Regions from separate parts of the Homo sapiens genome. Here region 2 is linked to region 1. The links come from fine-mapping of genetic effects on gene expression. Tissue or cell type: testis. Region 1 holds a variant in brackets; the other region holds the start of a gene. All regions are shown on one strand. Distances are between the middles of the regions.

Region 1 (5,000 bases):
CAGGATGGGGGCGGCCCTGATTTTCTGCGGGAAAGGATGCAGTCAGACAGTTCTTGCCGGGGAGGGTGGCTCACGTGTGTAATCCCGGCACTTTGGGAGGCCGAGTTGGGCAGATCACCTGAGGTCAGGAGTTCAAGACCAGCCTGGCCAACATGATAAAACCCTCGTCTCTACTAAAAAAAAAAAAAAAAAATACAAAAATTAGCCGGGTGTGGTGGAGGACGCCTGTAATCCTAGCTACTTGGGAGGCTGAGGCAGGAGAATCACTTGAACCCGGGAGGTGGAGGTTGCAGTGAGCCAAGATTACGCCATTGCACTCCAGCCTAGGCAACAAGAGCAAAACTCCCTCTCAAAAAAAAAAAAAAAAGTACGGTTCTTGGCCCTAAGAGCCGCCTTTCAGTGGACGGCTCAGGGCTGTAATCCCAAGGGCATGGTACAAGTTTCTCAACGCCAACGATAACGATAACAATGAGAATGACGACGTGCTGAGCACCCCTGAACACTGGGACCTCATCTCCTCTCCCTCACCCTCTGAAGTGCTTTTCATCATCCTCCTCGTGGTAAGAGTGAGCCCAGAGGTACAGAGAGCTCAAGTGACAGGCCCTACAACCAGGACGGGGGAGGCGGGATTTGAACAGGGCTCTGCTCTTCACACTACACCCGTGACCTCTGTTTCCGTGTCTGTCCACGGGGAACGGCGATGGGTGGGTGTGAGGTGGCCGAGCGAGACGGGGAGGGGCGCAGGCTCCGGCCAGCCCTGCCCAGCTCTGCCATGGAGCAAGCCACTTCTTTAGGCTCCTGTTTCCTCCTTTCTAAAACGGGGCGATCACAGTCCTTGTTCTTAGGGCTGCTGGATGGACAAAAGGTGACTGTGTCCACAGAGCGTCCCTGGGCACCGAGTAAACCCGCAGCATCTCACAGGGCAGCCGCCAGCATCGGGGCTGCTGGCTGGGCTCGGGGACTGCATGCGTTGCTACTGAGAGGTGCCCTGGACGCCCTGGGTGTAAAACACATGTTGGGTTTCCTTGGATTTCGAAGCTCCACCATAAAGAGTGTAAAATGGCTCAATCGCAAGTTTGCATCTGATGACAGGTTCAAATGAGAGTATTTTGGACCTGTTGAGCTAAATAAATATATTAGTAAAGTTGATTTCACCTGTTTGGTTTTTTCTTTATTATTATTTCAATGTGGCTTCTAGGAAATTTAAAATTACACATGTGGGCTGGGTGTGGTGGCTCACACCTATAATCCCAGCACTTTGGGAGGCTGAGACGGGAGGATCGCTTGAGGCCAGGAGTTTGAGACCAGCCTGGGCAACATAGGGAGACCCCATCTCTACAAAAAATTAAAATAAAATAAAATTAGCCAGGTGTGCTGGCACGTGCCTGTAGTCCCAGCTACTCAGGAGGCTGAGGCGAGCAGATCACTTGAGCCCAGACGGTCAAGGCTGCAGTGAGCCGAGACTGCGCCACTGCACTCCAGCCTGGGTGACACAGCAAGACTCTGTCTTAAAACAAAACAACCAAACAAACATTACACACGTGTTCACATTCTATTTCTATTGGACAGCACCGACATACATTATTATTATTTTATGATTCTGCCTATGCCACAGATTCTACCATTTCTTACGCTGTTTGCCTCTCAGGTATATCTGGGTTTGGTTTTGTTTTTATTCCTGCTTACTGTAAAAGTAATTTTTCCTCATTGAGGAAAAAATATCACACAAGAATAAAAATTGTCCATAATTCCCAACAGATAAAGTTCACTACTAAGAAAAGCTTGGAGTATGTCCTTCCAGTTTTTTTTTTTTTTTAGACAGAGTCTCACTCTGTCACCCAGGCTGGAGTGCAACTGGGCGATCTTGGCTCACTGCAACCTCCGCCTCCCGGGTTCAAGAGATTCTCCTGCCTCAGCCTCCCAAGTAGCTGGGATTACAGGCACCTGCCACCATGCCTGACTAATTTTTTGTATTTTTAGTAGAGATGGGGTTTCGCCATGTTGGCCAAGCTGGTCTCGAAATCCTGACCCAGGTGATCCACCTGCCTTGGCCTCTCAGAGTGCTAGGATTACAGGCATGAGCCACCATGCCCGGCCTCTTTTTTGTTTTTAAGATGGAGTCTCACTGTGTTGCCCAGGCCAGAGTGCAGTGGCGCGATCTCGGCTCACTGCAACCTCCGCCTCCCTCTTGCCTCAGTCTCCCGAGTAACTGGGATTACAGGCACCCCCCACCACCCCCGGCTAATTTTTGTATTTTTAGCAGAGACGGAGTTTTATCATGTTGGCCAGGCTGGTCTCAAACTCCCAACCTCAACTGATCTGCCCGCCTCGGCCTACCTAAGTGCTGGGATTACAGGTGTGAGCCACCACGCCCGGCCTCTTTTTCTCTTTTTTCTTTTGGTGCATATACTCTGATACCTAATTCTTCAGCTTCTTTGTGATGACACAGGATGCATCTGAGGTTCTCAGTTTCCTCCGTTAATACTGTAACACCGCATTCCCCCAGTGTCCGTCCCCTTCTCCCTGGCACACACCACTATCTGGGCTTTGCAGATA[T/C]GATCCAATGGCTGTGTGGCCTTCTGGGCCTCAGTGCACCCGGCGTGGTCATCAGTAGTGAGGACCCTGTGAGCTCCTGCCTCCCGTGCTCTGACCCAGCACTGCCCCTCCCGTGGACCCCAGCTCCAGCCCTGAGAGGCGGCAGCCAGGGTCAGAGGTCAAGAGCCAGGACTCTGGAACCAGAGGGCCTGGATCCAGTCCCAACTCTGCTGTCCACTTCTGTGTGACCTTGGGCAAGTCACTGCACCTCCCTGGGCCTAATTCATCATCCTTCGTGTGAAACTCTTGAGGTCTGATGCGTTTTGACATTCCGATATTAGAAACATAGTAATAGATAGTATAGGTTTTATAATATCTTAGTGGTCTTGAAACATGGGAATTTCTAGAATGAAATGTTTGGATAGTCACGAGTGGGATCAATAAAAGCTTTACTTTCATGTGGCTGGGTGAGGTGGCTCACGCCGGTAATCCCAGCACTTTGGAAGGCCAAGGCGGGTGGATCACCTGAGGCCAGGAGTTCGAGACCAGCCTGGCCAACATGGCAAAACCCTGTCTCTACTAAAAATACAAAAAATTAGCCAAGCGTGTTGATGCGTGCCTGTAATCCCAGCTACTTGTGAGGCTGAGGCAGGAGAATCACTTGAACCCGGCAGGCAGAGGTTGCAGTGAGCCGAGATCACGCCTCTGCACTCCAGGCTGGGCGACAGAGCGAGACTCCATCTCAAAATAAATAAATAAATAAATAAATAAATAAATAATAAATAAAATAGCTTCACATGAGTTCTGATCGGGTTTTGCCACCAAGTGGGATTTGGTGTCAAAGTTTGGAAAAATCTGATTGTTAGGGCCTTAAGAATTTTGGAATTGCAGGTATCGAATAAGGACTGGTAATAGTGCCCATCTCACAGGGCAGTTTGGAGGATTAAAAGAGTTATTACCCACAAAATGTTTAGAACAGTGTCTGGCACCAAAGATGTGTTCAATGTGTCTTAGTTGCTGGTATTACTATTTTCATTTTGTATATTTATTTATTTATTTTGGGGACGGGATCTCCCTCTGTCACGCAGGCTGGAGCTCAGTGGCACGATCACAGTTCACTGCAGCCTTGGCCTCCTGGGCTCAGGCGATCCTCCCATCTTAGCCTTCTGAGTAGCTGGGACCACAGGTGCATGCCATCACACAGGGCTAATTTTCGTATTTGTCTGTAGAGACAGGGGTCTTGCTTTGTTGACCAGGATTGTCTTCAATTCCCGAGCTCAAGTGATCCTCCCACCTCGGCCTCCCAAAGTGCTGGGATTACTGCTGTGAGCCACCATGCCCAGCCTTATTTTTTTCATTTTTAAAACTATGTATAGTGGCCGGGCACGGTGGTTCACGCCTGTAATTTCCCAGCACTTTGGGAGGCCAAGGCAGGCAGATCACTTCAGATTGGGAGTTCAAGAACAGTCTGGCCAACATGGGGAAACCCCGTCTCTACTAAAAATACAAAATTGGCTGGGCACGGTGGCTCACGCCTGTAATCCCAGCACTTTGGGAGGCTGAGGCGGGTGGATCACGAGGTCAGGAGTTCAAGACCAGCCTGGCCAACATGGTGAAACCCCATCTCTACTAAAAATACAAAAATTAGCCAGGCGTGGTGGCACGACCCTGTAATCCCAGCTACTTGGGAGACTGAGGCAGGAGAATCGCTAGAACCTGGAAGGCGGAGGTTACAGTGAGCCGAGATTGTGCAACTGCACTCCAGCCTGGGTGACAGAGCAAGACTCTGTCTCAAAAATAAAATAAAATAAAATAATGTATCACTGGCATGGAATAAAATATCCTCATTTTAAGTGTAGTTTGGGGAGTCCTAACAGTCGCTTTCCGTCATGTAACCACCACGCCAATGTAGCACCTTTCAATCACCCCAGAAAGCTCTCTCATGCCCTTCCCTGTCTGCCCCAGATACCTCACCTGCCCACACACGCAGAGACGCACACTTAGAACACCCAGAGCATGGTGTGGACGGATCCACCGCACCGGCTCCTTTGTGTTCGGCGTCTTTTGCTCAGTGTAACCCCCTAGAGATTCATCCAGAGGGTCATCAGTAGCCAGGTCCCTTTCATGGCTGAGCTGAGAGATTCATCCAGGGGGTCACAGCAGCCAGGTCCCTTTCATGGCTGAGCCGCAGCATCCTTTACACGGCCACACCTCGCAGTGTTTGTCCATTCACCTGCTGAGGAACATTTGGGATGTCTCCAGCTTAGGCAGTCCTGAGAAAAAAATGCTGTGAACACCCACATAGAAGCCGTTGCGTGGACATCTGCCTTCATTTCTCTTGAGGAAATACCCAGGAATGGAACAGCCGGGTCGGATGGCCACTCCAGTTTTAACTTTTTTTTCAAAAGTTTTTTCCTCTTCAATCCCAAAATTCTTGGTTTTATATTTCTTTTTAAATTCTTTTT
Region 2 (5,802 bases), 45 kb before region 1:
GCTGCCATCTGGGGGCCTCTGCCCCAGGTGCTTGCCCCTGTGCACGCAATGAGCTATCTCCTTATTTTGGCCTCGCCACAAAAGACACCTCCTCCAGGAGGCCTCCCCTGATCACCTCAAGTCTGTCCTCCTGACCGCCCACCAACTTCTCTCCTCCCTAATTGTCCTCTTATTTTCTTCATTGCTCACACTGCTCTTGGAAATAGGACCTTGAGGGGTCAGTTCCACGGGGACAGGGGCTGTCTCCTTACTGTTCTCCGGCCGGGCTCTCAAAGCCCTGAACAGTGCCCGGTGCTGAAGACCCTTGATGAGCTCTGGAGGTTGACGGCAAATCATTTCTCCTTCAGTAAAACAGGGGCAGTCATACCCTCCAGGCAGGGCTGAGACTTAGGCTGCATGGACCAAGAGGGTTCGCTGGTTGTTCAAATATTGGAATACTTCCCTGCTTCTCTAACGGCCCCACCTGACACGGCTTGGCCTCTCACCTGAGACCCTCTTGGTTTGTTTTTTGAGACTGAGTTTCGCTCTGTCACCCAGGCTGGAGTGCAATAACGTGATCTCGGCTCACTGCAACCTCTGGAGGCCTCCCGAGTTCAAGTGATTCTCGTGCCTCAGCCTCCCGAGTAGCTGGGATTACAGGCGCGCACCACCATGCCTGGCTAATTTTTGTATTTTTAGTAGAGATGGGGTTTCACCATGTTGGCCAGGCTGGTCTCGAACTCCCGACCTCAAGTGATCCTCCCGCCTCGGCCTCACAAAGTGCTGGGATTACAGGTGCGAGCCACCATGCCCGGCCGAGACCCTCTTGTAATGAAAGGGTTAACTCAGGGCTCATCAGGGGCCTGCTCTCACCTGTGCCCACCAGGTACCACCATCCCTAGGAGTTGGTACCGCATGGTTGCAGGATTGATGCCACGCTTGTGAGGTGCTGGGCACAGCATCTGGCCTGTGGGAGACCAGGAGGAACCGCGGGCTGCCACCATGTGATTCTGTTTTGCTGGTATCACCATCGGTCCTGGCCTACTCTGTGCTGGACCCTGGTGCACACACACATTCACTGGTCCAGTCTCACGAACTAGACTTGAGCGGCGCCAGGGGCGGGTGAAACCCGAAGCACCACAGCCACCTGCCACTCCCTGGCCCTCGCCCAGCCCCTTCTCAGTTTCCCCTCTCGGCAGCTCTCAGGGCTCAGCACCCACCAGCGCCCACCCAAAACCGCCTCTTCCGAACCCATCTGTGACCTGGCTTCTCTCGGGAACCCTGGCTCATTATAGATGTGTCTGGCCCACTTTCCTTCCAGCTTCCAACCCTGACTCTCCCCAGGCTCTGCCTGCAGGGGTACAGCCACACTTTCCCTCCCTGGGGCTCTCCGAGGAGAAGGGGAAGAGGGAGAGTCTGTCCCGGGTCCCCTGGCACTGAAAGAAGGAACCTTCATCTTTCTTCTCTCTCTCCTGAGTCCTCAGTTATTAGTCAGCGTTTTGGGGGATAACAAGGCAGGGGTGAAACTTCTGTGCTAATTTTAACATCTGGAAGGATCTTCAGTGTCCTGGACAGGGGCCACCCCTCCTTCTGGGTTTCTCCGCCCCTGATTCCCGATGTCCCCCTTCCTTGGGGCCCAAGCTTTTGGGGTAGTGGACCGGGGAGGTAGAGGGGAGGGTCACGGTGACCTCCCAGAGGCCTCTGCATCTGCCCTCCCCCTCCCTGCACCCAAGATGCAGCTCAGCTTCACAGCTCTAAATGCGTCCCCAGCACCCGCTGCCAACACCTGGGGGAGGTGAGAGGAGAGTGAGTAGGGAGGCTGCAGGCTGTGCCCTCTGCCCCTCCCAGGTGCCTCCACCTGCCAAGTCTGGACCAGGGACGAAAGCTAGGAACTGACCCATTCTCCATCTCCCTCAGGGTACCCCCAGCCCAAGACTGCATTCAAACCCCATCCTGGCTCCTCCAAGAGCTCAGTGGTCTCTTCTGGAAAATGGGTTTGAAGGTTCTTCTCTTCATGAGGTGGAGGGGCGGACGAAGCGGGCATACAGCGGAGTTCAAGAAAGGCCCTCTGTCCCCTCCCCCACTCTGTCTACTCCCCGGGCTCTTGCCACCCAGTCTTGGGCCCTCAAAGCTCCAGCTCCCCAGCTTCTCTCCTCTCCCCCGAGATCTTTCTCCTCCCCCCTCCCCCCGACGGGTCCTTCCCTCCCTCTTCCATCCTCTCATCTCTGTCCCACTTAGATCCTCCTGCCTCTTCCGGGTCCTGCCAGCTTCCCCTGCTCTTCCTGACAACGCACACCGCACCCCCCATTCTTCTCCCCACAGCCCCCGCCGCCCTCCAGGCCCCTCTGTCCCCTGCAGCCCTCAAAGTTAGGCCTTCCCTACCTCCTCTTTCCCCTCACTTCCCTGCCCCTGGGCCTCTCCTGCCCATCTCTCTACCCATCTCCCCCTCCACTCCTCCTCTCCCTCCTTTCCTCTTCCTCTACCCACTCCCCCTGCCCCCCGCCCTCCCCTCCCCTTCATCCAGGACCTTATTGCAGGAGTTACCCCCTCCTCTCCCCTCCCCTCCCACACCCTCTCCCCTTTCCCTCCTCTCTCCCCTGCTCCTCCCCTTTTTCTCCCCCTCTTCTTTCTTCCACCCCCTTCCCACTTCCTTCCTTCTTTCCTCCCCTTCCCTCTTCTTTCCTCCCCCCCTTCCCCTTCCCTCCCGTCTCCCTCTCCTTTCTTCCCTCCCTCTCCCATCCTCTCCGGTTCTTCCCCCCTCTTTCCTTCCTCCCTCTCCACGCTGCCCTCCCTCCCCTCCCTCTCTCCCCCCTTCCTCTCCTCCCGGGCCTCCCTCCCTGCTCCCTCCCTCCGCCCGCCCGCTCCCACCATCATCAGTATTCCGCTCCCGTCTCCGCCGCTCTCGGCTGCTCTCGGTCGCTGCCGCACCGTCCGAGGCGGGGGCCGGGGCCGGGGCCGGGGCCTGGGGGGGGGTGGGGTGGGGGGAGAGCGGCGCCGGCGGGCCCGAGGAGGGAGGAAGGAAGGAAGGAAGGCTGGAAGGAAGGAAGCCAGGAAAGAAAGAAGGAAAGAAAGGAAGGCAAGAAGGAAGGCGGGCGGCGGGCGAGGGCGCGGGGCCGGACGGCAGGCGGGCGCGAGGCGAGGAGGCAGAGCGGCCCCCCCAGCCCCACCGCCGCCGCTGCGGAAGCCCCCTCCCCACCCAGGAGCCGGGGAGGGGGGAGAGCGCGAGAGGCTCCAGGCCCGGCCGCAGCCCCGCCCCCCGCGCCTCCCCGCAGCGGGCCTTGCACCCCAAATTCCTGAGCCTCATTGGGGGGGTCCTCCCCCCACGGGCCGGGCATGCTGCCCCCCGGAAGGAACCCCTCTCCTCGCTGTGAGTAGCCGCCAAGGGGCACGGGTCGGGGGCGGGGGCCGGAGGCGGAACCGCGGGGGGTGGGTGGGGGGCATTCGCTAATTGGGGGACAGTGGTCTTAGGCCTCCTCCGGGATGGGGGGGGATGGCAGAGGACAGGGGGCGGGGCCTAATGGGAGGCAGAAGCCGGTGGGGGAGGCGACTGGGTGGGGGTTCTCCGGGCAGGGCGAGTTCTGTGCTGTGGGGGGGGTGGTTGTCGCCGCTGCCTGGGGACAGGTTGTGGGGGGTGCGTCCGGCGGTCGCTGCGTATCCAGCTGTGGGGCTGAGGAAGTAGGCTTAGGGTGGGGGGCTCTCCGGGCGTAGGTCCGGGCCCCCCTTTCTGGGGCGGGAGTCCAGGTTCTTCCTCTCCCCATGGCCCCTCCCACCCTCCACACCGCTGCTGCTTGGGGTGGGGGGGGCACGCCAGTGATGGGGAGGGGGGAGAGGCGGGCACGGGGTTTCCTTGGTGACCGCGCCTGGCAAGAGCGGTTGCCGTGGCAACCGGGGAGAACCGGGGAGTTTGGGAAGTGAAAATGGGAAAGACGGAGGGGGTGATTGGGGAGTGAGACAACCCCCTCCCCAGTCTTCAGCCCTTCTCCCTCTGGGGTCACCCCGCCTCTCCTGGTGGGCGGCTCGGACCCCTGCCCCTCCGTCTCTCCAAGACCCCCGTTCCCTGACCCCACTAGGCTTTGGGGCCTTCTATCCTTGGGCACGTGTCTCTCCAGGACCACTGCCTCTCCCACCTCCCTCCGCCCTCCCCTCCTGGAAACCTCTCCTCCTGGAGACCCCCGCCCCCCATTTGCTGCCTCCTCCCCAGGCTTCCGACCCTCACACCTGCTCTTCTAGGACCTTCTAAGACACGGCATCTGCTCCTCAGCCTTCTCTAACCCCCATCTCTGACAATCCCCCAGATATCCCTCTCCAGACCTTCTGTCCAGGAGACCCTCACTTCAGCCGCCCTCTCCTCTAGCTCCCTCCTCCCACTCCCTCCCCGCCCCTCTTTGGGCCTTGCACCCCAGCCTCTCCCCTTTCTCCCCAACACCCCCAGTCGCCTTCTCCTTAGCCCATCACTCTCTGAAACATCCTTCTATGACCTTTCATCACCCAGAGACCCCCTCCATCGTTGTCTCCTCACCCCATAGTACTCCCCAGTCTCAGACCCCCCCAATCCTAGCTCTCTCCTTTTGGGAGCCTCTCCTTCCAACTCACCATCAATCCCGGGCTCTCAGGGTTCCCCCCATCTCTATGCCCCTGCCTCCCTGGGGTCCTGTCCTGCCAGGGGCCCAGCCAGTCTCTCTCCAGGACTCGAGTCTCCAGAGCCCAGGATGGCCTCTTGCCCACCCCTCCACCCCTTCGCCTCCTCTCTGCACCCCCATCTCCTTCCCCAGACCTCCTCACCTCTGCTCTCCTCCTAGGCGCCCTCCCCTCCTCCCTGCCCCCTCCCCGCAGCCTCTGGTGACTTTCTGTCGGGGTGGGGAATTCCCCTGGGGAGAGCCCAGCTGGGAAGGGGGAGGGGGAAGGGAGCCTCGGGGCTGCCCCTCGGCCCCCTCCCCGCCCCCCTCTCCAGCTGGGAGCTGCAGTGGCGCCTCCGCAGCGCCCCATTGCTATGCGCCTCACATCCCAAGTCCCGGCCGCGCAGCCGCCAGACAGGAACTCGGGCTCCAGGCAGCTGGGAGTAGCCGGAGCCGGCTTCCCTCCTGGTCCAGGAGCCTGAAAACTCCCGCCCCCCACCCCCGGACCGCGGCCAGGACCGCACCTCCCTCTTCCTGTAGCATCTTCCGCAGCCTTCGCCTTCTAACCTGCCTTTCCGCAGCCTCCACTTCGCCTTCCCACCTTCCTCCTCCTCCTCCTCCCTGGGGCTCCTCTCCTCCTGGCCACCGGATTGTCCAAACGCACACAGAGAAATGAGGGACAGAGAGTGAAGCCGCCGAAAGGCGGGGAGAGAGACCCAAGGAAGGGAAGAGTGGGAGCCAGGGAGGGAGGCACAGAGGGAGAGAAGGGACCCAGCCTCCGAAACACACATACAGGCAATTAGGGCATCAGCACGGAGTCACGGAGTTACTCACTTAATTTCCGAAAGAAAGAGTCGGGGAGCCGGGGACACACGCCACTCCCACCCAGAGAGCAGACACGCGGGTGAGGCAGAGACGCAGGGAGCCACAGACTCAGGGAGGGTGGGACAGACCCGCGGGGTGCCTGCTGGGGCCAGCAGGGAGCCGGGGGACACTGGCCACCAGAGTTCTGGGGGATTAGAGGCCGCTTCTGACTTGTCAGAGGGACCCCAAGTCAGCAAGTCAGCGACAGAGAGTGGGAGCGTGCGAGGAAGACACGGGGCACGTGGAGGCAAAGATTCCCCTGGCAGGTACACACACACACACACACACACACACACACACACACGAGAGCACACAGTCATTCACTGGCAGCCAGAGACCCCGA

Evidence for each region. PIP is the estimated chance that this variant, and not a neighbour inherited with it, causes the effect.
Region 2: it holds the start of LRRC4B, and the variant in region 1 is fine-mapped to the expression of LRRC4B in testis (GTEx, PIP above 0.99).

What each region holds. Positions count from the first base shown.
Region 1 is chr19:50,520,774-50,525,773 of GRCh38, reverse strand. All of the region lies in intron 2 of LRRC4B (leucine rich repeat containing 4B), which reads left to right. The region is part of intron 1 of LOC124904747 (a long non-coding RNA gene); the gene reads right to left. Among named protein-coding and RNA genes, the nearest start is that of ASPDH, 9.4 kb to the right of the region's middle. The variant T/C (reference allele first, on the strand shown) is at 2,557.
Region 2 is chr19:50,565,488-50,571,289 of GRCh38, reverse strand. LRRC4B (leucine rich repeat containing 4B) reads left to right here and starts at 2,855. Exons shown (of 3, transcript NM_001080457.2): 1 at 2,855-3,346.